Linked DNA regions of Homo sapiens. The protein of the gene in region 1 purifies or fractionates together with the protein of each later gene. This does not show direct contact. Each region holds a gene or a part of one and is shown on either strand. Other genes may lie near its edges. The genes, in order: DDX31, GC, PRR4, DMBT1, CP, NUCB1 and PIGR.

Region 1 (3,500 bases):
ATTCCTGTAATGGAAATAAGAAGCAACAGGCAAGAGATCCCTAGTGCTGTGTAGCCTGTAATCCGCAATCAGGCAGAGACTCGGGGACTCAGAGACTCGAAAGGCAAGGGAGGTAGGAAGTAATTGTGGTAGAGGTGATGGATGGAGCAGCATTCTCATTTGGAATGGGAACAGGGCGTAGGAATTTTCTCCAGGCCGTCTGAATCTGGAGGAGCAGCTTGAGAGGAGAGAATGAGAGAGATCCAGGCGCTAGGGTAGAATGGTAATGAATGTTTCCGCTTCCTGGGCACGGGCTGAGATGCGCATTCCCCCTCGCCCCTCTCTCCTGTGCGGTCTCCAGTGTGCTTTGTTGGTGGAGAGAAAAGATTCGTTTTCCCCCACCCCTCTTTTCTCCTTGGGTGAATGGGTTCCTAGGAATATGGATTGACACACCCTTCACAAGGTGGATTCTTGCTTCCCTTAAAACAGACTCCATTAGTTAACATTCAACTGGAAAAATGCTGCTTCTTCATCCTTACCTTATCTTGATTGATTTAACAGTTAAGAATGGCTGGTGAGGTCTGGTAGATGAGTGAGCTGAGACTTTTTTCTTTTTTCTTTTCTTTACCTTTTGGAAGAAGCTGAGTCAAAGAGTCTGATTGCAAACCCTAAACTGTTGCTTGACATATGGGGCATAATGATCTCTGCAGGGAGAGATGCAATTCTGTGGGCAGTCAGGCTTCACTCCGAGCTCTGTTTTCATGGACTAATGCATCTCTTGTTGATCTTTCCTTCTGGGAACAACGCAGCAAGCAAAGGCTACGAAAAGAAAATACCAAGCGTCCAGTGAGGCTCCCCCAGCGAAACGGAGGAACGAAACTTCATTTCTCCCAGCCAAGAAAACTAGTGTTAAAGAAACTCAGAGGACTTTTAAGGGGAACGCACAAAAAATGTTTTCTCCAAAGAAGCATTCGGTTAGCACAAGTGATAGAAACCAGGAGGAGAGACAGTGCATTAAGACTTCATCACTGTTTAAAAACAACCCTGACATTCCAGAACTCCACAGGTATGTCCAGGGGCGGATGCCCTTCAGGAAGAAAAAAATGTGTTCTGCCTTTTCTTTGTTAATATTGGCACTGATGCCTGGGTTCTTGTTCATCATTTGCAGACCTGTGGTAAAGCAGGTGCAAGAAAAAGTGTTTACTTCAGCTGCTTTTCATGAGCTGGGCCTCCACCCACATTTAGTAAGTACCTTTCAGTGTTTTCTGGGTCAGTTTTTTTTGGTGTGTTTGTCCGTTCAGAAGGTCTGTGAAATGGCCGCTCTAGGAGGAGAGATCAGAGAGTGTTTGTTTCTGCTCTAAGTTACCTGAATGAACTCAGATTGATATGATACTCTTCTAGGACAGTTCAAGGGTGCTTAGGTTACTGTTCACTGTTTTCTGGCCCCCCCTTCCCCCATCCTCTGTTTTTTTGTGTTTTTGTGTGTGTGTTTTTTTAAGTATTGAAGACTTTCCTCGACTAACGTGATTTAGGGTCAGGACATCACTTGCTAAACTTAAAACAGCTCCCTATTTACTGGATAGTTGTAGTGGTGAAGCCATTTGTGGTGGCAGATGTCACAGTGGCCATAGGAGAGGGAACTGTGCTGGCATCTTGCTGTTAAAGGACGTCCACAGTTTTAGAGAAGTAAGGGAAGAAGAGTATTTTGGTGTGTGTTCTACAAACAAATGGACACTTTAAAGGAAAAAAAGTGAGTTCTCCAGACTCATGAGTAAGAAGAAAAAAATATATTAACTTTTAGGCAGGCTTGGTTTCCTCTGCACTTTCGGTTACAGCTTACTACCCCTTCTGTAGGGTGGGTTACCTAAACTTGTTTTCTCACCTGGGGGGTGGATCAGGGTTTCTCAGCCTTGGTGCTGTGGACATTTTGGACTAGGTCAGTCTTAGTTTTGGGGACTGTCCTGTGCACTGTAGGATGTTCAGCAGCATCCCAGGCCTCTACCCACTAGATGCCAGCAGTGCCCCCCTCCCCTGGTTATAACAAGCACAAATTTTTCCAGACTTTGCCCTGTGTCCCCAGGGAGTTAGGGCGGGTGGCAGAATCGCCCCAAGTAGAGAGCACCACCTGGGTGGAGGAACTTAATTTGATCATAGTAGTCAATGTTCTCTCAATAGTTTCTCCTTTCTTGTGTAATTTCCGTTAAATATTTTGTATCAAAATATTAATTAAAGCTTTTTCATCTCCTCTTTTAGATTTCCACAATAAATACGGTCTTAAAAATGTCTAGTATGACCAGGTAAGAACTTCAGGCTCCTCTTGATTTCTTAGGCATTACGTGGGTATAACCGGACGAAACCTGTGTGTGCAAGGCAGAGCAAATTTGTGTCTTGGCGTTGGAACACAGTGCCAGGTTATCGACCATAAAGGGTTGTCGTCTCACTTAGCTACTCATTCTCTCCACCTGTTAAATGGAAAGACTGGCTTTCCATCCAGTTCTGCCCTTGGCTCTGAACCGCAAGAGACGTCTCATCCAGAAGGTGGGCTGCATGAGCGCCGCTGTTTTCTGTGCTTCCCTGAAAAGAATTTGGCCAAAATATAGCATGTGACCATGTCGTTTCTTAGTAGTAAGAATTAGGGTCAACCAAAAAGACAAGAGTAAATGTTCAGTTGGATAGAGTGGGATACTGAAAAAATGTTTTCAATGTTTGTTACAGGGAATGACTCCTGGAAAATAAAGAAGTAAAATAGGTGCGAGGAGATGAGCTTCCTTGTTTTGAGTATTTGTGCTTCTGTGCATTTTCATAATGATTTTTTACTTTTACTAGTAAAAATTAATAGGAATATTAAAGTCCAAATTAAGGGACCTCCCCACAAGTTTTTTATCAACCAAATTTAAGTGATTTTTGTGTCTCTTTTGTTTCTTGTTTTAAAATACATGTGTAGACACACATTTCAGCATGTCCATAACCTTTTCCTGGAGAATGGACAGCTGCTGCTGGCTCTCTGAATAGTTGGCGAGCTTCCTCCTGCTATCCTGCATGGAAACCTTTCCATTATGTTTCGTTGTGTTTCATATTCCTGTTAGTGAGGGCAAGAGTGTGTGATACACTTGGTGGTAACTCTGATTTGTTGTCATGCCTGTTTCTTTTTCTTTTTTTTTTTTTTTTTGAGACGGAGTTTTGCTCTTGTTGCCCAGGCTGGAGTGCAGTGGTGCGATCTTGGCTCACTACAATCTCTGCCTCCCAGGTTCAAGCGATTCTCCTGCCTCAACCTCCTGAGTAGCTGGGATTACAAGTGCGTGCCATCACTCCCAGCTAATTTTTTGTATTTTTAGTAGAGATGGGGTTTCATCATGTTGGCCAGGCTGGTCAAACTCCTTACCTCAGGTGATCCACCCACCTCAGCTTCCCAAAGTGCAGGGATTACAGGTGTGAGCCACTGCAGTCGGCTGCCTGTCCCATTTTTAAAAGAATTAGTTTAATAGAATGGCCAGTCTCTGGTTTGCCTCACCATTTTCAGG
Region 2 (4,188 bases), on another chromosome or scaffold:
ATGTAAATGACGAGTTAATGGGTGTCAGCAAACCAACATGGCACATGTATACATATGTATCAAACCTGCACATTGTGCACATGTACCCTAGAACTTAAAGTATAACAATAATAAAAAAGAAAACTTGAATCGAAAAAAAAGAAAAGAAAAAAATGCAAAAAAAATATTTTTAGTGCTCTGTTAACAGTGTGTAACTTAAAACTGAGAATTTTTTTGCTGTAGTTTAATTTTAAAAAATCAATTTTTATAAATGTTTCCTGGTCATTAAGGTAACTTTTCTATCTGCAAGTTAAAAAAAAATTTTATAGCTGTATCACCAGTCTTTGTTACTTGGTTTCTTTGGAAGGGAAGAGGGAAAGATATATTGTATATTAGTATTTCATCCATTTCAGTCCTAGGGGAAGAAGCTACTTGTAGGCAACTGGGAAATACTGCCTTGTTGCTTTTCATAGGGTAGCAAAAGTGGACATTTTCTTATGGTACTAACCAGATTTAGCAGATTTGGTAAGCTCTCTTCTCCAAGATGTACCCAGTGGCTTGGGAACAAGATTCCCAATGCTGTTTGATAGGAGAGGGCTGGCTTAATTGGAACCTGTCCAGTAAAGGGTCATCTGTAACAGTATCCATTTTAGACCCAAGGTTTCCAAAGAATAGTTCCACAGGTATAGACATTGTAGAAAAGGGTCAATATGTTTAGATACTCTGAGTTAGATAAGATTTCTTTCCTGTAGTGTTTCTCAGAACCTTTAGGACGACAAAGGCATGAATTGTGAAACCACCAAGAAGGAATAAATTATGGCTCATTTCTTAAATATATTTGGCCACAGAAACTTCTTTTCAAGGTAAGTCTTGAGTGTAATATATTTTGAAACAGGTGCTTAAATAAATGCTGTGGGTGGTCAGCTCTCTAGAACTATAACAGGCAGAGAAAACTGCAATTCAAACCAATCCCCCACAATACAAGGCTACTCAGAACCTAAGAGTTCTCAGAACTCCCTTAATCTGTACACTTTGTAACTTCCTGCCAGGAAGAACACAGCTAGCTTCTAAGTAAACTGCTGACTTGGTCTTTGGGTCATGCTCAGGTATTAGAGAATAGAGAATTGATAGATCAGGACTACTCTCCCCAAATATTGAAAGTTAATGCTTACAAGTGTATTATGTATGTCTCAAGATATCATCTGGCATATGGCACATGGGTTATAAGAATGAAGTTTAGATCTTCTAGGGGACTGACTGGAGGTTTTTAGCATCCATTTCATCAGAATCTGAGGACTGCTGAGAATGTTGAAATATAGATTGCAGAATGCTCTGTTATTCTCCAAAGGACACTTTCATTCTTTGAGGTGAAGCCAATGTGCACCTATTGAGTCAGCAGTCTAAGATGGTGATTCATGCTCCTGCTTATGGCCTCCATATATAATTCCAATTCCTAGCCATTATTGGACCTTCTGTGTTTGAAGACCCTGATCTGAACCTGCTTCAGTAGGATTTTTCAGGATCAGATCTGCCCCAGCAAATCCTTGGCCAAAAGAATAAGACTTAAAGGGATTTCTTGGAACATGGCCTATTCAGAGGTCTTATAAGGGACACAATTTATGTTGCTTTTTTATACCCTATGCTGTCTGGGAAAGACTTTGTAGTCTTACCTAAGGACGCATAGCTTACTTAAGAATTGATGGGTAAGACGAGTTAAAATAATTTGAATGATGAAATAAGACCAAGGAAAAGTAAATGTAAGAAGAAGAATAAAAAGTCAAGAGTAAGGTTATTCATGTTACAGTTAATAACTGATAATTCTTGGGAACACACATTTTATTCCACTGGCAAAACACATTACTATTATGAATAATAATGTACGAATTAGGTGAGGCTGTTAACTGACAGCACTAAATGAAAACCTTAATTTTACAAAGCAGGATAAATGCAGATGTCCCTTGTGAACATTAAAGAATCAGCCAGAAAAGTAAATTGAAGCTAATGATGAAAAGTTTCCCAGCTGTAGAATTCATAAAGTTGTATACTTCCCATAATCTCAGTCTTTATCATGTAAAAAAATTTTTAAACATTGCCCAAAGATGAACACACCATCTGAAGAATAATTTCAATGAAAAATATAACTGAATTATCTTATTTGTGGTTATGTTTCATAGCTATAGAAAAATTTTATGTGAGGGATATTTTTAAAAATACAATGCATTTTCAAATACTGCATGTATAAGATTCCTCTAAGGGGATCAAAGAAATCTCTAAGTTGACATCATGCATCATTGGCATGGTATATTACACTCAATGGTAATAAATATTTGAAGTCTGAATAAATGCTTAATGGTGGATCACAGTCTTTATTTGCATTATCTTGTAACAATTAGCAAATGTCTAATTTTAAATTATTCTCTCTAGGTCTTGCTTATCAACAAAGGAGGAAGAGATAATTGACAAATTATATCATTCCATTTACTTTCTTTAACAAGATTCTTGTGTTGATTTTTTTTGTCAATTCCAATTCAACATTACATGGCATCGTGGAGCTCTGATTAATGCCTCTCTGGTCCTTATCCCTCTCCCCAACATATTCACCAGTTCTTCTGTTTCTTACTTTTTATTTCATTTTTTAAGTGATAATATAAAATTAAACTAGTAAGAATTCCTGTAAATGGTCACAACAAAAGAAATCTTACCTCTCTCTAAAGCATGTCCAAATGCCACAGCAAGCAGTAGTACCAGGACCCTCTTCATTTTTCTACCAGAGAGTCTTGCAGCACCTCCTCTCTCCTGTAGGTGACCATGTAAAAGTGGTAGCCAAAAGTAATTGGTTTCCTTTTTACAAAGATTCCTGACTATGAATTAATCAATTATTAATCTCAGAAGCAACACAGAATTATTATTAAACACAGAAGCAAGGGGCTGTTATCTTTGGCCCAAAAGAGATAAAATAATATCAATCAAGGTAAATAGACACCCTGGGGATACTGTAGTGGAAAATCTAGGAGATTTTAATCATTAACTTTGTCAAACTGCAAAAGAGCCAAGGTATATAGATTATTTTCCACTGCTGTTCCTCACTAAAGTTTACTTAATATGTTAGTAACGCACACCTTCTCCCCCTGTATAGGGCTGTGTGTCTTCTTTGGACACCCCACCTTTCTCATATGTAAGTGGAAAATCGGAAACTCTGTCTTTACCTCTCTTCCTCTCTTTGTTTAAATCTACTACAAATAAGCATTACCTTAAAATATTGCAGACCAGATGTTCTAAGTAAAAGGGGAAAAAGAGTGAGAAGCCAATTCAACATAATATTTTAAATCCATAATTCTGATGCTATGAAGTAATCTTATTTTAGATGATGGCATAGTACTTTGTATTTCTATGCTGTATTGCACTTTGTGAAGCACTGACATATATATGAAAAATAACCTTTGAAGTGAGGCAAATAACTGGAGAGGTTAAATGGCTCACCACTGCCAATCATAAAAAGTTAGTGGCAAATCTTGGACTCCCTACAGTGATTTTAAAGCTCCTTCTACTAATAGTTTACAACTAGTATATTTTATGGGCATGTAATTTGAGAGCTCAGAGAGGCCCTGTAGGACATGAAATCCAACATCTTCATTTTACAGAAGAGTGAACTGAGCACTGGGTAAATTCTGTGACTTGTCTAGAGAGTCATAGGTAGATCATTCATTGGAATTAGATGAGTTCCACTCCTGGTTTTTGCAGTAGCCCTATTTTCAGGAAATGGTCAGGTACAGGTTGTTACACATGCTCTAAAATCAAATCCCTACTCAGCTTTCATAGCTGTGTAACCTTGGGAAATTTATTTTACCCCTCTAAGTTTCATTTTCCTCATATGCAATGTGGTGATAACTCAGTACATTTGACACAACATTGCTATGAGGTTAATTAAGGTAATCTGGGTGCAGGGCTCATGGTAACATCCATCACATAGTAACATGGATTAATGTCACCTATTACTCTTATTCTAGTTATTGCCACGTTCTCCCACTGGCTTTCCAAATTTATAATATCTGTGAAGGTCAATGAAACTAATGAGGCCATTGGAACTCAGTGGAAGAGTTTAAAGACAGCCCTGTGTCCAGGGTCCCGCAGATAAGTGATTTAAAACTTCATTATCAACTCAGTAGCCAAGGATTATCTACATGGGCAGAGTCTATCAAAATTTCAGTA
Region 3 (4,294 bases), on another chromosome or scaffold:
GTCTTTAAGATTTCCAGTCACATTCCCCCGACCCTGTCATACTTCCAACCAAGCTATCCTCAAATTATCACCAGCCCTGTACAAAAATGTAACAATAATACGAGACCTATACAATGCCTGTAATGAAAAGTGGCAGCTGGTGATACTGATTGATCTAGGGGTTCCATGAAAATATAAGCAGAAAACTACTAGATAGGACAGAAAAATCAGCAGGTGAAGATTAAGCTACCAACTCAGGACCCTACCAAACTTTTCAGAAACACAAAACCTTGGTGCCAAATTTTAAAAACAAAAAAGAAGAAAGCAAGCAAAGAGAAGTACAGAACCTTGTTTAGAAAATCAAATAAAGATTTCTCCCAGAACGCATGAAGAAAGCAGTAAGATATAAAACATAGACATAGGGAGGATTGATTCACAATATAACATATCAACAAGTAAGGTTCAGCACAAGAGTGAAGAAGAATGAGTATAAGAATATTGCAGAGAAAATAATCTTTGGTAAAGGCAATCTGAGAAGCAAATAGAATGGAAACTAATTAAAAAATAGAAAATCAATGTAATACTTGAGGCTTTCAACAGGCTATCATACTATCTAATTAGATTGTATTATTGTGTCCACTCAATAACCAGTGTGATTAAAATATTTGGTACAAGAAGTAAGACCTAAACTGAATCATATAGAACATTCTAGAAAAGAGAAAGATCATGGAAGAAGTCTTAGGGACATAAAATAGCATGGCTTGTTCAAGGAACTGTGTATTCACACTGTTCTGATGCAGAAATCTAATGGTGCTTTCTGTGGCCAATTTTGCCTTACTAACCTCCAGGGTATTAATAAAGATAGAATGTTTTAATACCTGTGTTCTACAACAATAAAGTATCTCTGGTTAATGCTAGATTAGGAGAATCTTAATCTCTTTGGGCCAGAGTAGCCTGAGGGTAAAACTTCTGTCATCCACGTGTGCCCAAGTGTGTGTTGTCCTCACACAACTCAACATTAAACAGAAATGATCTCTATATTATTATGAAATTAAGCTACATATCATCCATATAGGTATATATGCTATAAAAATGGAATTTATGCTACACTAATAGCTAGAGATATTAATCATTTTCACTTCTGGCTATAAGATCACTGCTGACAAACATATACAAACGTAAGCACGTGTGCACACAGACAACCAATGAAGGGGAAAGACTAACTGTCTAACCCAATTGAAAATCAAATGATGACCAAACTTCAATTGTAGTATTTGTGCTGATTGCTTGGATACTGTTTCTTCAGAAACTATGCTCAAGTCACAGTTTGTACCTAACCACATCCTACCACCACATCCTGCTGGGCTAAAATCCCAAAAAGTAATAAGAGACGCATTCAACTTTATGAGAGGAAAGCAAAACCTAATCTTTCAGGTGGTGAGGTCCACCCAGTATGGAGCTCAAAGGTGCCATTGTTCTGCTCATGTTTATAAAGGGAGCTGCCATGTTTCTCTCAACGCAGAGTTGGGAGCAACTCCAGAGCCTCCTTCAAGATGCTGCTGGTCCTGCTCTCAGTGGTCCTTCTGGCTCTGAGCTCAGCTCAGAGCACAGATAATGGTAAAAAAATTATTTTTTTAAAAAAGGAGATGGGGAGTGGGATGAGGGGCCATGACTCTTCTAGGGCCTCAGGGGTTCACCCTACACCACTGCAGCGGAAGAGCAGGAGGGGAGGAAGGAGGTTGAGAAGAAGGGTAGGGCTTTGGAGCTCTCATTCCAAGGATGACATCTGTTGTGCCCTCATTCCATGCCAAGGCCTTATACTTTATTTGATATACACTTGGAACCCAATAGAGAATTTCAATTAGAGGAATGACAAAGTAAGATTTGTATTTTTAGAAAGACCTGGCTGTGCTGTGAAGGATGCAGTGGAGAATGCAAGACTGATCCAGGGAAGTCCAGCTATGAAGATGCTACAGTAATCTCAGTGGACAGCGATGATGGTGTCCTTGCTGTACAGGGGATGCAGAATCAATGAAAGAGATAAACAAACATCAGAGTACTGTCAGACATAGAGGACTGGATAATACATTTGTGTCTTTCTACATAGTGGTATAGAAATATCAGGTCCCCAAATTCCCATTTTTCTTCCAATCACATTTAAAATTTCAATATGTTGCAGGCAGCATGTGTAAGATTATATCCAAATATTTACTCCTGGTTGCTCCTCTTGGGCAAGCTTGTGAATATGATCAAAATATTTAAAGAAGGAAGAAGGTAAAGATCTAAAATATGACATGAAAATACCCAGAGAAGTGTGCCTAAATTAGCATTAGGGTTTGAGGGATCCTAAGGATGACAAAAAGGGACTCTTCTATTGAATTCGTGGTTGATGCTCAGCGATAGTAACAATCCTGCCTCCCCTAACATCTTCCTCCCCTTCCAGCAGCTTCACAGAACATGGTTGATGAGGTAACTTAGGGGATGCACAGGGTGTGGCCAGAAGACCCCTTTCCCTATAGACCACTATGAGCCCTGAAAGATTTATGAGGTAATGTTCACTTCATCCTGTGCTTCTTTTCCTAGATGTGAACTATGAAGACTTTACTTTCACCATACCAGGTAAATCCCAATGATCCTCAATCCAATTCTTTTCTTTCTTTTTCCACTAGAATTTCTTTTTAGTTTCCTTCAGTGTCTTCTTCTCATCATTTTTTTGGGAGGAGGTGGTAAGAGGGGTCAGGCATTGATTAATATTAGTGCCCCTAAATATATAGGCAATTCTTACCCATCTTTGATTCTGGGGACCATGAGCCAGGCCACCAACTTGAATACAGAGATGCCTGGCTTTGAGGACAATAGGAGTGGGCAGGCTTTTTTCCCAGGCTGGAATGACTGCTGAGAGATGATGAACAAATGAGAAGTGTTCTCATTCTGACTCCTCCATCCTTAACTGCTTCTTTCTTCCCCCAGTGTTCCCCCGCACGGTTATGTGGCTTCAGGGAGTAACACAAAACAAAACAAAAAAATCACTGCATGAATGTCTTTTCTCTGTGTTGACCCACTCAGCTGTGTCACTACAGATGATAAATAGTTGCCACAGCTGTTTAGTGATCATGTGCAGGCTTTCACATTGTCTTTCTCTTCTGTCTCTTAGTATTTCTCTACTTGGTTCCAGGAGCCTGGGAAATCAGCTCTAGTTTCCACATAGGGCTTAGGTGCCCAGAGATGGAGTCACAGTTTGTAAGTCATTACAGCAACCAAAAAATAAAAATAAAAAATAACCAGTAACATAACTGAAAGCTATAATGCTTTTGCTTTTTTTTTTTTTTCTGTCCTTGGAGACATCCTCTGGCAACTCTAAGATATGCAAGAACCCCTCTTTTCATTTAAGGAAACATACTTGTCACAGGAGCAAATAAATGAGACTTTCCATATCACTCTTACATGGATTAAGTTGAGAGCTGCATAAAAAGAAAAAAAAAACAGTGGGCACAAAAGAAGTTGACAGTCAAGCAGCAGGTTTGGGGAGAACAGGGCTGTGTGGTAAGGTGAGAGAAGTATAAAGAGAGGAGAGTTTTTCTTCACTGAGCTCATGCATTCTTGTCCATTAATTACTCACACAGATGTAGAGGACTCAAGTCAGAGACCAGATCAGGGACCCCAGAGACCTCCTCCTGAAGGACTCCTACCTAGACCCCCTGGTGATAGTGGTAACCAAGATGATGGTCCTCAGCAGAGACCACCAAAACCAGGAGGCCATCACCGCCATCCTCCCCCACCTCCTTTTCAAAATCAGCAACGACCACCCCGACGAGGACACCGTCAACTCTCTCTACCCCGATTTCCTTCTGTCAGCCTGCAGGAAGCATCATCATTCTTCCAGAGGGACAGACCAGCAAGACATCCCCAGGAGCAACCACTCTGGTAATCTAGAATTCAGTGGCAGGTATGATTCCAGTTCATTCTCCATTAAATGCCCAAACTGCTACCATTCCCAAACTTTATCGTGTTCACAAATCAATTGGAAATATGTTGAAATTACATAATCCTGGACCCCATTTCTAAAGATTTGTATTCAGATATTCTTGGATAAGGTTGCAAGTCCTTGTATTTTTAACAAGTGGTTCAAAGAATTCTTATCTTTTGAAATACTGACCTCCCCAACTTTTTTCTTAAGATGACTTGTCTCATTAAAATGAGTTGGTAATGAGGAAGTGGGGTGTGCTCTCCCTTTGGTGCTCTGCCTCCTGTCTTTGAGTCTGCCTTCTCAAACCCAAGGACTCTCCATCTCAGGTTTCTCTCAGGTTTCCGCCAG
Region 4 (3,500 bases), on another chromosome or scaffold:
ACTCTACTTGGAGTCACTGAGTGTTTGGTGTCTAATGTTGCTATTTTTTTCTCACAGCTGCCCAGCCTCAGTCAACACTCAGGCCAGGTGAGTCCCCAGAATCCTTCCTCGGGATACCCCTTCTCTTTCTGCTCAGTTACCCCTTCCCTACTCCACAGAGCCCTCCTGCTTCTCTGCAGATACTCTGGGGCATATTATTTCACCCCCAACTCTGTAACTGAGACCCTAGCATGGGGCTTCTTAACCACACATGGGATTTAGCTTCTGCCTTCTCTTCAGTCCATCTCAGCTTTCATCACACAGTTCCATGCTGTCCCAATGAACAACTCTTAGAAGTTCAGAAAGAAGCCTGCTGTTTAATGAGCTTTGGCCTCTTTATATTCAGGGCTGACACAACCTTTCTGAGAATTGAGGGTGAGACCCTCTAATGTTCTGTTGAAGGCAAGGTCAGTACAGGCTTGATACCCCCATCTCTCACTACTTGAAAAACCCCCAGATTCTGCAGGGCCACGTCTGCATTCAGAAGAGGCAGAGGCCATGCTGAGGGGAGAGAGAGGCTAAGAAATGTTTCTGGTGCCTTCACTTACCAGGAAACCTGATTTCCCCCAGGGCGGACCCCTAGTATCCCGAACATTTTAGCTGCAAGTGTCAAGTCTTGGCAGTGGTGTCAGATGAGCCAGTCAGTCCACGCGTCAGTGGATGGTGGGGGATGGGGGTGGTGAAGGTTTCCTAACTGCGAATAGGTCATCCCTCTCTCAGAGAGAGGTGGAAGGGCCTGCATGGTGTCCTTTGTCCCTGAATGAGTTCCCTGGGCAGGAGACCTGGGCAGACACATGGGGAGCAAGTGGCCAGACCTTCGAGTGGAATTGTTTTCACAGTGCTTGCCTGGTCCAGAGAACCGCTTGTTTTTTACCTTTTTCCCTTCAAGTCCAATTGTATCCTTTCTCTTTGTTGCTGTTTACAGAAAGTTGGCCTGTCAGGATATCACCACCTGTACCCACAGAAGGTAAAGAATCCTCTCAACACTCCCTGGGGCTCACTTTCTACCTCTGGATACACTTTGGATTTCATAGTTCACTTATGATTGCCATAAAGAGAGGTGGGGAAGTGGGCTAAGCGTGGGAGGGTGGCAGCAGGTGATAAACAGTTGGCTCAAGAGTCAGCTCGGCACTGGGAACAAGAGCAGGACCTCCCAGAAGATCATTAGGAATCATTAGGCTCATGATAGGATGAGGCTCAAGGTGGGCCCCTTGCTTTTTCATGTTTCTGTGGGTTGGGTAGGGAGGAAGCTGGAGTCTCTGAAAACCCAGAATTAGATGTGATATTGGAGGGTGGAGGGTGCTGGTGACCTGTCTCCTGTGGGATCCTGTTCCAAGTGGTCAGAAAAGATCCTTATCTATGGGCTCAGAACAAGCCCTGGGGGTCTCCCTAATCCTATGGGGACCTCATCCCTGCCATCTCTGGTACTCTGCCAGTCAGATCCCAGATAGGACCATGCTCCTGAATAAGGGAGGGGTCTGGGCCTGCCATCTGGAGCTGAGCAGCTCCATCCTCTGTGTACCCAACTGGGGAGTGGGGCATCCATTCCCATCACATCCACTGGGGTCACAGGTGCTTCCCCAAAAGTTGAGCATCCATAGACCTGGGCAGAGTAGGTTATCAGTGCTACTTTCACGGTGATGAAGCCTAGTCTGTGGTCATATGCAAAGGTGACTGCCTGCCTAGGTGACTTAGTTCATTAGGAAGTACCCTGAGTGTGGAACTTACCTTAGATTCTTGACCTCATGATAGGGATGGATGAAGGGTTCTTGTGTTCCCCTGTAGGATCTGAATCCAGTTTGGCCCTGAGGCTGGTGAATGGAGGCGACAGGTGTCGAGGCCGAGTGGAGGTCCTATACCGAGGCTCCTGGGGCACCGTGTGTGATGACTACTGGGACACCAATGATGCCAATGTGGTCTGCAGGCAGCTGGGCTGTGGCTGGGCCATGTCAGCCCCAGGAAATGCCCAGTTTGGCCAGGGCTCAGGACCCATTGTCCTGGATGATGTGCGCTGCTCAGGACATGAGTCCTACCTGTGGAGCTGCCCCCACAATGGCTGGCTCACCCACAACTGTGGCCATAGTGAAGACGCTGGTGTCATCTGCTCAGGTGGGCCTTCAAGAACTTGGGCTCACTCTCTTGGGGTGGAGTTTGCTCCAAAAGAAACTCCTAATTACATTCTGATCTCCTCACTCAAAGCTTCTATGTTTTCTATGTTTCTGAAGACTTGTCAGCTCTCTGCTAAGAATCCATATGTACTCACTGCCTAGTGTTCCTGTGGTCACTTAGGACAGGGGATCAAACTAAAACAACCCAGAGTTTTTCCCCTTCCTGAGGCAAGGCAAGGAAGAGGCAGAAGAGAAAAGTGCCGGCTCCCCAGGGCTCCATTTCTCCCCTGCTGAGTAGCACGGTGTGAGGGTATAATGGATGCAGCACAGACAGCAAGGCAGGGGAGGGATCCCCTCACTGCGAGGAACTCTGAACTAAAGATGCTTGGCTAAAAGTGGGTTCTCAGCTGAGACCCAGTGAGGAGGTCTGGAAATAGAGGCTCAAGGGTTAGGAGTGCAAATGGGTGTCTGTTTGTATCAGGCCTGGGTTGCGTGGGGTTGGAGTTCTTGACCTCAGCTCTTCTCAGAACGCTGCTGAGCATTGCCTGTGTTCTAGGTCTGGTGAGGGGAGGGCAGTCCCCATGAGGCCAGCCAGACATGGCCTTGTCATTGCCTGTGATTGGGGCTTGAAGATCGCACAAGGGATTTTGGCTGGAGTGGCTTCCTCAGCCTTGCTGACTCAGGAACACCTAAGATGTGCAAGGGAGTGGGTTGGTTTAGGTCAACCGGGTTACCCTGGGCAGACACAATTTGATCACCTCAGAGCTGGCAATAGTGGACAGGATCTGCCTCGACCCCTTACACGGTGCATCTCTGTGGGGATGTGCATGGCAATGTCCCTCCCTGTGTGATAGGAACTAGGATGGACTGAGTGTCAGACTCGCTCATTTCTTTCCCTCCTCGTTCCAGTTTTGCCGACTTCTGTGTAATGTTCCTGATCTGACCTTCTCTTCTCTTTCTCACAGCTCCCCAGTCCCGGCCGACACCCAGCCCAGGTAGGTCCCCAGTGTCCTTCCTCAAAATGTCCCTTCTCTTTCTGCCCAATCACCCCTTCCACACTCCACAGAGCTCTCCTGTTTCTCTGTGTGGATACTGTGGGGCATATTATTTCCACCCCCAACACCGGCTGTGTAACTGAGATCCCAGCACAGCGCTTTTTAAACACACACAGGATTGAGGAGGCCTCTGTCTTCTTTTCAACCCCTCTCAGCTTTCATGAAACAGTTTCATACTGTCCCAGTGGACAACCCTTACAGGTTCAGGAAGTGGCCCCATGTTTAATGAGCTTTGGTCCTTTTATATTCCGGACTCACATATAGTTTCTGAAAATTGAGGGTGTCACCCTCTGACCCG
Region 5 (4,010 bases), on another chromosome or scaffold:
AAAATTATACTAACACAAAGTGTCAACTGTTATCAGGATTTTCTTCAGCTAAAAAAAAAAGCCATTTCATACTTTTAGACATATACTTCCTGACTAAAAACAGGGTTTTAAGAAAAAGTCTTCCACCTTAAAATTCATATCCACTTCAAAGAGAAAAATTTCAGTCTAATGATAAACTGGGGTACTTTCTATTTACTAAGACTAATCTTTGCCTCTGAAGACAGGTTTAGTTATGGTTTGTTTATTTGATGATTAAAACAAAGTTATTAGCCCCTGTTAGGCTCTGCTAGTTATTTGCATATAGCAATACAGAATGATCTGGTAAAGTTTTTATGCAGATTTGGTCCAAGCTCATAAAACAGATAAATTCTTCCAAATTAAATTCTTATTTTTGTTTACTTAAATTTGGCATGCTAGATATCATGTTTCATATCATAAAGCTGCAATTAATCATTTGTTAGACTTTTAGAAATAGTCATGCACCACATAATAATGTTTGAGTAAATGACAAACTGCATATGTGATGGTGGTCCCATAAGATTATAATAACATATTTTTACTGTACATTTTCTATGTTTGCATATGTATAGATACAGAAATATCATTGTGTTACAATTGTCTATAGCATTCAGCATAGTTATAGACTGTACAGGTTTGTAGCCTAGGAGCAATAGGTATACCATATAGCCTACCTAGATGTATAGTAGGCTATATCATATAAGTCTGTGTAAGTACACTCTGTGATAGTCACACAATGACAAAATAGCCTAACAATGCATTTCTCAGAACGTATCCCTGTCATTAAGAATGACTGTAGTAAAAAGCTACATGTTTTGATTCATTTTACATAATTCTTATCCTGATTTACTAAAAGTGCACTGTTTGCAGGACACTGTGCTGTGACATATTGTCAGAGGAACAAAGGGAGCATTTAGACACGTTCTCTGCCCTCCTGGAATTTACACAATGAATGGAAAAAGGCACAGAGTTATGCACACCCTAATGCCTCCAACAATAACTGTTGACTTTTTATTTTCAGTCAGAGAAGCCTGGCAACCAAGAACTGTTTTTTTGGTGGTTTACGAGAACTTAACTGAATTGGAAAATATTTGCTTTAATGAAACAATTTACTCTTGTGCAACACTAAATTGTGTCAATCAAGCAAATAAGGAAGAAAGTCTTATTTATAAAATTGCCTGCTCCTGATTTTACTTCATTTCTTCTCAGGCTCCAAGAAGGGGAAAAAAATGAAGATTTTGATACTTGGTATTTTTCTGTTTTTATGTAGTACCCCAGCCTGGGCGAAAGAAAAGCATTATTACATTGGAATTATTGAAACGACTTGGGATTATGCCTCTGACCATGGGGAAAAGAAACTTATTTCTGTTGACACGTAAGTCACTATTTTTATTGTTTATAGACCAAAATTTTAAGTTATTTTTAAAGGATAGAGCCAATAAGATGAAATATTTTTAAAATTTCTTATATACAGAAACTGCAAAATGTGGGCTTGAAACCCAAGACACTTGAATCAATCTCCTTTATATTCCTGTATATTTTTTATTTGGTGGACTACCCTGCTTCTTTCCTGTTGTTCCTGGGGATCTGTGTTCACATCTTACTACCTCCCATGGTCGTAACTGCATCTCCGATTAGGAATCTGTCTTTTTATGTGTTTATGCAGAAGTTCTTTCATTTAAACAATTACTGTATACAATGTTATGTTTATTGCACCATTTAATGGTTATTCATGATAGGCATAAAATTTTTTTATATCTTTCAAAACATCACTTATAGAAATAAAATACAATTTTAGCAAATAAGATCCTGCCTGATATTTATTGAGAGACTCCAGACAGTTAAGTAGGTTAATCTTTCACAGCTTCAGGGTCCTAATTTGTAAAATGAGGATAATAAGCATAGCTCATAGGGTTATTTAAAGAGCGGGTGCATGTAAAGCTCTTAGTACAATGCTTGGCACATATGTGCATAAAAAAATGTCAGGTACTTATTAGGATGGTCCTCAAAAAGCTCCATGTAACTTAAATGTCTTCATTTTTCAGTTGGAAAATCCCCTTATTGAAAGCAATATTCACTACACAGTAAAACAAAAAGTTTAGTTCTCCTTGAAGTTTTTTGTACAGAAGTTTATCTATACTGAGGTCTTCACTTTTAATGATGTTAATTAAACATTAACCACCAAATGGGAACTTGGAATTCAAAATCAATATTCACTACATTAAAATGTATTTCAGTGGTAATAAAACACAAACAAGCCCAATGACCATCAGCTGCCAAGATTATATCTTTAAAAAACAGCTAAATAAGGATGCCGAAGTTTGTAATTATTGAATCTTATTGATGAGTATATACTATTTTCTTTAACATTATGTAAAGTTGAAATTTTTCACCATAAAAATAAATACATAACAGATACTAATATCCAATTATTATATTATGAATTTAATAATATACAATAAAGAAAGTTTCTGACCTGAAGATAAGTGGTTGTAAATAAAACTAATACATCTTGTAATTATTTCTTTTTTAACCTGGTTTTAAGGTGGTATTATCTTCTAAGGAATATGACATATTTTTACAGCTTCACCAGAAACATTATTTTGCATGGATTCAGTATTTTCTTGATTAAATATAATATAAATTATATGTGGTTTTTATTTCCAAGGAAAAAGTCAGACACATTAAAAAAATAAAAATACTATCCTTCTCTATGCCCCCACTCACCACCACTCTGCCATTGTTCGTGATCAAAAATCAAATCAGCTTTATCAGGCATAAACTAAGTGCAAGACATTGCCCTGAATATGCTTCAAAAAAAAATCTTTAATTCTAAAAATCAGGGAGTAGAAGAGTGAAGGAGTTTGTTTAGAATTTGGTGAATGGGGGCGGAGGAAATTCCTTTGTTTTTAATTACTCCTGTGGCCTGTCTGTGCCAGGGAAGCTACCCAATGAGTATAAGCCTGTTTACCCCATTGTGACTATATTAGTCTCTTCTTATGCTGCTAATAGAGACATACTCAAGACTGAGTAATTTATAAAGAAAAAGAGGTTTAATGGACTCACAGTTCCACATGACTGGGGAGGCCTCACAATCATGGTGGAAGGCAAAGGAGGAGCAAAGGCATGTCTTACATTGCAAACTTTCCCATACCTTCCTGTCATCTGAGCCCTCCAAGTCTCTAGGAAGTTCCAAACTTTCCCACATCTTGCTATCTTCTTCTGAGCCCTCCAAACTATTCCAGCCTCTGCCTGCTACCCAATTCCAAAGTCACTTTCACATTTTTGGGTACCTTTACAGTAGTGCCCCACTCCAGGTACCAATTTACTGTATTAGTCTGTTCTTACACTGCTAATAAAGACATACTCAAGACTGGGTAATTTATAAAGAAAAAGAGGTTTAATGAACTTACAGTTCCACATGGCTGGGAAGGCCTCACAATCATGGCAGAAGGCAAAGGAGGAGCAAAGGCACGTCTTACATGGCAGCAGCCAAGAAAGAGCTTGTGCAGGGGAACTCTCATTTATAAAACCATCAGATCTCATGAGACTTATTCACTACCATGAGAACAATATGGGGGAAACCACATCCATGATTCAGTTACCTCCACCTGGCCCCCTCCCTTGACATGTGGGGATTATTACAATTCAAGGTGAGATTTGGGTGGGGACACAGCCAAACCATATCAGTTACTTAAAAAGTATACTTAATAGAGATACTTAAGGCTCCTTAAAAGGAAAAATGGAGCATCTTCTAGTTGCAAAGTCCACCTCTCTTTTTGTTATTGTCCTGTGACTTTAACATCTCCTCTGGCTTCAACAATATGCTACAGTTTTGCAAACTCTAGGTGGGACTGCTTTCTCTGTGATTTTTTTCCCCCATATATCTTACCAGTGAATTTTGAATACAGCTTCAGCAATTTTGCCAATACTATGCTAAACTTTTTGCATAGATGTGTGCAGATAGCAACCTTTTGGTCCCTTCTTTGTCC
Region 6 (3,500 bases), on another chromosome or scaffold:
TAGTTAACATTTGCTCCATTTGCTTTGTCACTCACGTTTGGGACTTCACCACAGTCACCATCTCATCACCCTTACACATTTCAGTGTGATACTCTTGCATAAGTACAGCGATAAAATCGGGAGATTTATCAGGTCACACTGTTTTTCCTTGCTCAGCTAATATCTTTCTTTTTTTTTTTTTGAGACAGAGTCTCGCTCTGTCACCCAGGCTGGAGTGCAGTGGTGCAATCTCGGCTCACTGCAAGCTCCGCCTCCTGGATTCACGCCATTCTTGTGCCTCAGCCTCCCAAGTAGCTGGGACTACAGGCGCCCGCCACCATGCCCAGCTAATTTTTTGTATTTTTAGTAGAGACGGAATTTCACTGTATTAGCCAGGATGGTCTTGATCTCTAACCTCGTGATCCGCCCACCTCGGCCTCCCAAAGTGCTGGGATTACAGGTGTGAGCCACCGCGCCTGGCCTTTTTTTTTTTTTTTTTTGGTGAGACAGAATCTTGCTCTGTCTCCCAGGCTGCACTACAGTGGCGCGATCTCGGCTCACTGCAACCTCCGCCTCCTGGGTTCAAGCAATTCTCCTGCCTCAGCCTCCCAAGTAGCTGGGATTACAGGTGTGTGCCACCACACCTGGCTAATTTTGTATTTTTAGTAGATACTTGATTTTGCCATGTTGGCCAGGCTGGTCTTGAACTCCTGACTTCAAGTGATCCTCCTGTCTCGGCCTTCCAAAGTGCTGGGATTACAGGCCTGAGCCACCAGCCTTGGCCCCCATCTTAAGGTCTTTAATGTAATCCCATCCGCCAGGACCCCTTAGCCCGGAAAGGTCACGCATTCACAGGTTCCGGGGATCAGGATGTGGATATCTTTTAGGGCACCAGTATCCAGCTGCCACAACACCCAGGCTCTTCCCGTCCCTCCTCTGCCCAGAGCCTGCCCCCGGCACCCCAGTGCCCTCAGGCCCGCATTCATGTTCCTCTTGTCTGCTCGGAGCCTGGGTGGACCTTGGCCACACCCGCCCAACCCTGCCCTTCCCGTATGCACCCTGACCTTCTTGCGTCAGCATTTTTAGAAATTGCTGGCGTGCAGCCTTGGGACCTTTGTCCGTTCGCCCCGCTCTCCCGTGACATTCTTTCTCAGGGCTCTTTGCCTGGTCCATGGACCTTCCATCTCCCCTGGAATGTCACCTCCTCAGGGTGTCACCGCCCCGGCTGTCCTGTGTGAAGGAGCCTCTGTGTTATTTGTGTCCTTGGTATTCCTTTGTTCATCCCTTGGTCGCCTGTTCTCTGTCTCTCTAGACTGGGTGCTCCAAGAGGCAGAACTCTTTTGGTTGTTGTTGTTTTTGAGACAGAGTCTCACTCTGTCGCCCAGGCTGGAGTGCAGTGGCGCGATCTCGGCTCACTGCAACCTCTGCCTCCCAGGTTCAAGCGATTCTCCTGCCTCAGCCTCCTGAGTATCTGGGATTACAGGTGCCCGCCACCATACCTGGCTAATTTTGTATCTTTAGTAGAGACAGGGTTTCACCATGTTGGCCAGGCTGGTCTCAAACTCCTGACCTCAGGTGATCCACCCGCCTCAGCCTCCCAAATTGCTGAGATTACAGGCATGAGCCACCCCGCCTGGCCTCCAAGAGTCAGAATTCTGTCATCATTTGATTCCTGCTGTGTCCATAGCGGCCGGCGCTGGGTCAGCCTGGAATAGCGGCTCAACACACGTCCCTGGCACAAATAATGAATTTGAGATTCAGTTTGTACCTGTGTCCTGCACACCTGTCACTCCTCTGGGCTCAGCCAGGGCCGGAGCTGCCTCCACTGCAGCCTAGGTCTCCCAAATTCTAGCTGCCCGTGTGTGTGTGTGTGTGTGTGTGTGTGTGTGTGTGTGTGTGTGTGTGTGTCTTTCTGCCCACTTGACCAAGGGGTGTGTGTGTGTGTGTGTGTGTGTGTGTGTGTGTGTGTGTGTCTTTCTCCCCACCTAACCAAGGGCCACTGGAGGCCAGGGCCAGGCTGATTCATTTTGGGTCCAGCATTGCACAGCGCAGGCCTGGGCCCCTAGAAGCCTCGGGAGACATGCGTGCGGTAAGTGTGTGTTGGCAGCGTGTGCGCTGTCCTTTCCTGCCTGGAAACCCTACCCCTTCCTGACTACTTGGAAACTCCCATATGAGGGAGGCTGCACTTGTTTGCTGAGGCCGCTGTAACCAAGTACCACTGACCAGGTGCTTCAGCAACAGAACTTGACTGTCTCATGGCCTGCAGTCAGAGTCCAAAGTGAAAGTATTGGCAGGGTTGGTTCCTTCTGGGGCTATGAGGGAGGATCTGTACCAGGCCCCTCTCCTTGGCTTGCAGATGGCCGTCTTCTCACTGCATTTTCACACCATCTTTCCTCTCTGTGTGCCTGGCCCAAATTTCTCCTTCCATTATTATTTTTTATTAATTATTATTATTATTATTTTTTTTTTTTTCCAAGACAGAGTTTTGCTCTCGTTGCCCAGGCTGGAGTGCGGTGGCGCGATCTCAGCTCACTGCAACCTCTGCCTCCCAGGTTCAAGCGATTCTCCTGCCTCAGACTCCTAAGTAGCTGGGATTACAAGCACGCGCCACCACGCCTGGATAATTTTGTATTTTTAGTACAGATGGAGTTTTGCCATGTTGGGCAGGCTGGTTTCGAATTCCTGACCTCAGGTGATCCACCCGCCTTGGCCTCCCAAAGTGCTAGGATTACAGGTGTGAGCCACCGCGCCCGGCCTATTATTATTTTGAGACAGGGTTTCACTTCTATCCTCCAGGCTAGAGTGCAGTGGTGCGATCTCGGCTCACTGCATCCTCCCCCTCCCACGCTCAAGTGATTCTCCTGCCTTAGCCTCCTGAGCAGCTGGGACTACAGGCACACACCACTGCACACAGCTAATTTTTATATTTTTTGTAGAGATGGGGTTTCACCATGTTGCCCACGCTGGTCTCGAATGCCTGAGCCCAAGTGATCCTCCCACCTCAGTCTCCCAAAGTGCTGGGATTACAGGCATGAGCCACTGTGCCCAGTCATAAATTTCTGCCTTTTATAAGGTCACCAATCATGTTGGATTAGGGCCCACAGTAATGACCTCATCTTAACCTGATTCCCTCTGTAAAGACCTAGTCTCCAAATCAGGTCACATTCTGAGGTACTGGGGCTTAGGACTTCAACATAGAAACTTAGGAGCGTGCAATTTAACCCCTAAGATTGGTTGATGCTTTATCAAAAATTTTGATGTTTTTCTTTTGTTTGTATGTATGTATTTATTTTATTTATTTATTTTTCAGACGGAGTCTCACTCTGTCACCAGGCTGGTGCAGTGGCGTGATCTCGGCTCACTGCAACCTCCGCCTCCCAGGTTCCAGTGATTCCCCTGCCTCAGCCTCCCAAGTAGCTGGGGCTACAGGTGCGCACCACCATGCCCAGCTAATTTTTTATGTTTTTATTAGAGATGGGGTTTCACCATGTTGGCCAGGATGGTCTCAATCTCTTGATCTT
Region 7 (3,500 bases), on another chromosome or scaffold:
GGGTGGATTGCTTGAGGTCAGTAGCTCAAGACCAGCCTGGCCAACATGGAGAAACCTTGTCTCTACTAAATAGAAACCAAAATTAGCTAGCATGCACCTGTAGTCCCAACTACTTGGGAGGCTGAGGCATGAGAATCGCTTGAACCTGGGAAGCGGAGGTTGCAGTGAGCCGAGATCGTGCCACTGCACACCAGCCTGGGCGACAGAGAGAGACTTTGTCTCAAAACAATAAAAATATATAAAATAAAAAACAAGGGTTATCATAAATTTGTCATTCCCTTGTCCTTGAAATGGTTATCATTAATGAATAACAATTCCAATTTAATCATGATTAAAACAGTCACTTTATTTAATCTCAGCAATTTTCCAGCTGTGATATATGATAAATTATCAACACAGGGCCTACGTGTCAGGTAGAAAACCACATCTACTCATAGTGGGTTATCTGGAACAGGCTTTACCTCCCAAGGGCCTCAGAAAGCCTCTCTCTTCTGTTCCCACAGCCATCTCCACGAAGAGTCCCATATTTGGTCCCGAGGAGGTGAATAGTGTGGAAGGTAACTCAGTGTCCATCACGTGCTACTACCCACCCACCTCTGTCAACCGGCACACCCGGAAGTACTGGTGCCGGCAGGGAGCTAGAGGTGGCTGCATAACCCTCATCTCCTCGGAGGGCTACGTCTCCAGCAAATATGCAGGCAGGGCTAACCTCACCAACTTCCCGGAGAACGGCACATTTGTGGTGAACATTGCCCAGCTGAGCCAGGATGACTCCGGGCGCTACAAGTGTGGCCTGGGCATCAATAGCCGAGGCCTGTCCTTTGATGTCAGCCTGGAGGTCAGCCAGGGTAAGGATCCAAGCTCCTTGGGCTTCTGGGGGAAAGTTAGAGGGAATTCTCTAAGGTGCATGGAGGGCTTGAGGAGGAACTTCCTGACAAGGATGTGTAGCCGGGTTGGGGGTCAGAAGGCACCCCTTTCCCCAGGCAAAGACTTCTTTAACAGGAGAAGGAGACAGATAGGGCCTACTTGGGGGTGATGAGTGAACCCTTCTAGGACTTGGTGGCCTATAACATTTTAGGCTTTCTGGAGACCCCAGCTTAGAAGGGTATCAGAAGGACAAGTTTTCTGGTGTTTGCTACAGGTAGAAAGGGAAATCTGACATCAGGCTAAGGAGATAGAAAAGGTAGGGAGAGATTTACAGGGATCCTTAAATTCCTATCATTAATGCACCTTTCCATCAAGGTTTGGGCCGCCAAAAGGCTTCTTGTAAAATGCATATTTTTTTTTTAACCTGGGAACCCTTAGTCTTTTGGTATTATCAGGGTAAATTAGATTATTAGATCTTGACCAAAGACCAAGATCCTGAAAGGATGGGTTGCTAACAAGCCTATTCTAGTTGGAGAAAGAGAAAAAAAGAAAAGCTCTTTCTGACAAGGGTTTAACAATGAGGCTGTTTTAGATAGTCAAGGGCAACTCAAAAGAGAGGTCTACGGAGAAAAGAAATTCAGGGGGACTCCCAAAGACATGTCTTGCTCCTTTGGAATATGCATACTATTGTCTGTGGACTAAATGAGGAGGTCATTTAGGTGGGGATCAAGATTCAAAACCACAGAATCTTTAGAGGTGAAGAGGGCTTAGAGTTCACCCTAACCGGACACTTAGAAGAACATGCTGATGACGGGTATGCAGCCTCTGATTAAGCACTTTAGCAGAAACTCACTGCTCCCTGAGACAGCCCATTTCACATTTAGACTCTTGTAATTTTTAGAAACTTCTATTGTATGCGTTGAAATCCATCACCCTGCATTTACATTCATTCTGTTCATTTCAGCACACATTAATTTGGCCACCTACTACCCAGAGGCATTGTGCTTGTCACAGCAGAGGGGTCAAACATGAGAAAAACATGTTCCAGCCTTCAAGGAACTTCCAGTCCATGGAGAACATAATTACCCATACACCAGATTGGATGTAATAAGTGATGCAGATGTATCAAGAAAGCACAGGGCAGGGAGAGATTAGTGTTAGCTTGGGAAAGGTTTCATGGAGAAGACCGCTGTCAAGCTGGGCCTTCCGACAGCATTCCTCTGGGAAGGAGGGCATTCCAGGTTATAAGTCCACCCACACCCTAACTAGGAATAGCAAATAGTCCTATGTTGCAAGAAAGTAGAATCGTAACTTGCCTGCCCCCTACCTTGCACCCCTCATCCTGCAGGTCCTGGGCTCCTAAATGACACTAAAGTCTACACAGTGGACCTGGGCAGAACGGTGACCATCAACTGCCCTTTCAAGACTGAGAATGCTCAAAAGAGGAAGTCCTTGTACAAGCAGATAGGCCTGTACCCTGTGCTGGTCATCGACTCCAGTGGTTATGTAAATCCCAACTATACAGGAAGAATACGCCTTGATATTCAGGGTACTGGCCAGTTACTGTTCAGCGTTGTCATCAACCAACTCAGGCTCAGCGATGCTGGGCAGTATCTCTGCCAGGCTGGGGATGATTCCAATAGTAATAAGAAGAATGCTGACCTCCAAGTGCTAAAGCCCGAGCCCGAGCTGGTTTATGAAGACCTGAGGGGCTCAGTGACCTTCCACTGTGCCCTGGGCCCTGAGGTGGCAAACGTGGCCAAATTTCTGTGCCGACAGAGCAGTGGGGAAAACTGTGACGTGGTCGTCAACACCCTGGGGAAGAGGGCCCCAGCCTTTGAGGGCAGGATCCTGCTCAACCCCCAGGACAAGGATGGCTCATTCAGTGTGGTGATCACAGGCCTGAGGAAGGAGGATGCAGGGCGCTACCTGTGTGGAGCCCATTCGGATGGTCAGCTGCAGGAAGGCTCGCCTATCCAGGCCTGGCAACTCTTCGTCAATGAGGGTAAGACCCTAGAGAGGGAGGGGGAGTAGGTGGGGCAGTCTCGCAGGTGAGAGCCAAGCTCAGCTCCCTCTGAGTGTATTCATCAATAGTCATCAATCAGCCAACAGCATCCACTCAATGACCAGCCCCGAACTGGAGGCTGCGTGGGCTGCTGCACAGGACAGCAAGAAAAAGCAACCTCTGCCTGATGGCAGCTCCTAATTACTCTTCTGTTATCAAAGTCATTTTGATGGCTGTCCCTGCTTAACAAGCAAGAGGTGAGTAAAGCTCTTGATTGAGGCAGGACTTATAGACTGTGTTTCAGGGCTGTGGCAGGCTCTGCAGGGGTCCTCTGTCCCCTCCCCTGGCCCCTGAACAAGATGGGTGCCTCATCCCTCACATTCAGATGGAAAAAGGATTGGCTTATCTTGGTCTCAATGCGTTCCCAGGAGTGCCCCAGCCTCTAAATGTTTCACTGTCACATTTCGTAGGGTTATTTGTGAATTTCAGCACCATCTGGCCCACTCAGCCCTACTCCAGTGAGCCATCAGCATGGTGAAAGAATTAAATCCCAGCTCCTTCTCATCCCAGAGCACCCTGCATAGAGTTGCCCTCGTGAGAAGCAGCAAACCAGTACTTGCAGTTCCAA

The links.
Region 2: the proteins of DDX31 (region 1) and GC purify together in Homo sapiens (affinity purification with mass spectrometry; 2 studies listed by BioGRID and IntAct, with this or other methods). This does not show direct contact.
Region 3: the proteins of DDX31 (region 1) and PRR4 purify together in Homo sapiens (affinity purification with mass spectrometry; 2 studies listed by BioGRID and IntAct, with this or other methods). This does not show direct contact.
Region 4: the proteins of DDX31 (region 1) and DMBT1 purify together in Homo sapiens (affinity purification with mass spectrometry; 2 studies listed by BioGRID and IntAct, with this or other methods). This does not show direct contact.
Region 5: the proteins of DDX31 (region 1) and CP purify together in Homo sapiens (affinity purification with mass spectrometry; 2 studies listed by BioGRID and IntAct, with this or other methods). This does not show direct contact.
Region 6: the proteins of DDX31 (region 1) and NUCB1 purify together in Homo sapiens (affinity purification with mass spectrometry; 2 studies listed by BioGRID and IntAct, with this or other methods). This does not show direct contact.
Region 7: the proteins of DDX31 (region 1) and PIGR purify together in Homo sapiens (affinity purification with mass spectrometry; 2 studies listed by BioGRID and IntAct, with this or other methods). This does not show direct contact.

What each region holds. Positions count from the first base shown.
Region 1 is NC_000009.12:132,659,984-132,663,483, reverse strand, and holds part of DDX31 (ATP-dependent DNA helicase DDX31), read left to right. Parts: intron 1-66; exon of another isoform or gene 67-112; intron 113-157; exon of another isoform or gene 158-259; coding exon of another isoform or gene 260-262; intron 263-788; coding exon 789-1,045; intron 1,046-1,147; coding exon 1,148-1,223; intron 1,224-2,232; coding exon 2,233-2,276; intron 2,277-2,283; exon of another isoform or gene 2,284-2,517; intron 2,518-3,500. UniProt on the Homo sapiens protein: May have DNA helicase activity and RNA helicase activity. Probably have ssDNA and RNA dependent ATPase activity. Plays a role in ribosome biogenesis and TP53/p53 regulation through its interaction with NPM1.
Region 2 is NC_000004.12:71,781,280-71,785,467, forward strand, and holds the start of GC (vitamin D-binding protein isoform 1 precursor), read right to left. Parts: upstream 2,801-4,188; 5' UTR 2,776-2,800; coding exon of another isoform or gene 2,740-2,775; coding exon 2,682-2,739; intron 1-2,681. UniProt on the Homo sapiens protein: Involved in vitamin D transport and storage, scavenging of extracellular G-actin, enhancement of the chemotactic activity of C5 alpha for neutrophils in inflammation and macrophage activation.
Region 3 is NC_000012.12:10,846,676-10,850,969, reverse strand, and holds the start of PRR4 (proline-rich protein 4 isoform 2 precursor), read left to right. Parts: upstream 1-1,494; 5' UTR 1,495-1,532; coding exon 1,533-1,596; intron 1,597-2,562; coding exon 2,563-2,598; intron 2,599-3,602; coding exon 3,603-3,907; coding exon of another isoform or gene 3,908-3,925; intron 3,926-4,294.
Region 4 is NC_000010.11:122,577,754-122,581,253, forward strand, and holds part of DMBT1 (scavenger receptor cysteine-rich domain-containing protein DMBT1 isoform e precursor), read left to right. Parts: intron 1-57; coding exon 58-87; intron 88-964; coding exon 965-1,006; intron 1,007-1,824; coding exon 1,825-2,148; intron 2,149-3,112; coding exon 3,113-3,142; intron 3,143-3,500.
Region 5 is NC_000003.12:149,219,030-149,223,039, reverse strand, and holds the start of CP (ceruloplasmin precursor), read left to right. Parts: upstream 1-1,210; 5' UTR 1,211-1,247; coding exon 1,248-1,393; intron 1,394-4,010. UniProt on the Homo sapiens protein: Multifunctional blue, copper-binding (6-7 atoms per molecule) glycoprotein. It has ferroxidase activity oxidizing Fe(2+) to Fe(3+) without releasing radical oxygen species. It is involved in iron transport across the cell membrane.
Region 6 is NC_000019.10:48,906,812-48,910,311, forward strand, and holds part of NUCB1 (nucleobindin-1 precursor), read left to right. Parts: intron 1-3,500. UniProt on the Homo sapiens protein: Major calcium-binding protein of the Golgi which may have a role in calcium homeostasis. Acts as a non-receptor guanine nucleotide exchange factor which binds to and activates alpha subunits of guanine nucleotide-binding proteins (G proteins).
Region 7 is NC_000001.11:206,936,467-206,939,966, reverse strand, and holds part of PIGR (polymeric immunoglobulin receptor precursor), read left to right. Parts: intron 1-503; coding exon 504-848; intron 849-2,215; coding exon 2,216-2,872; intron 2,873-3,500.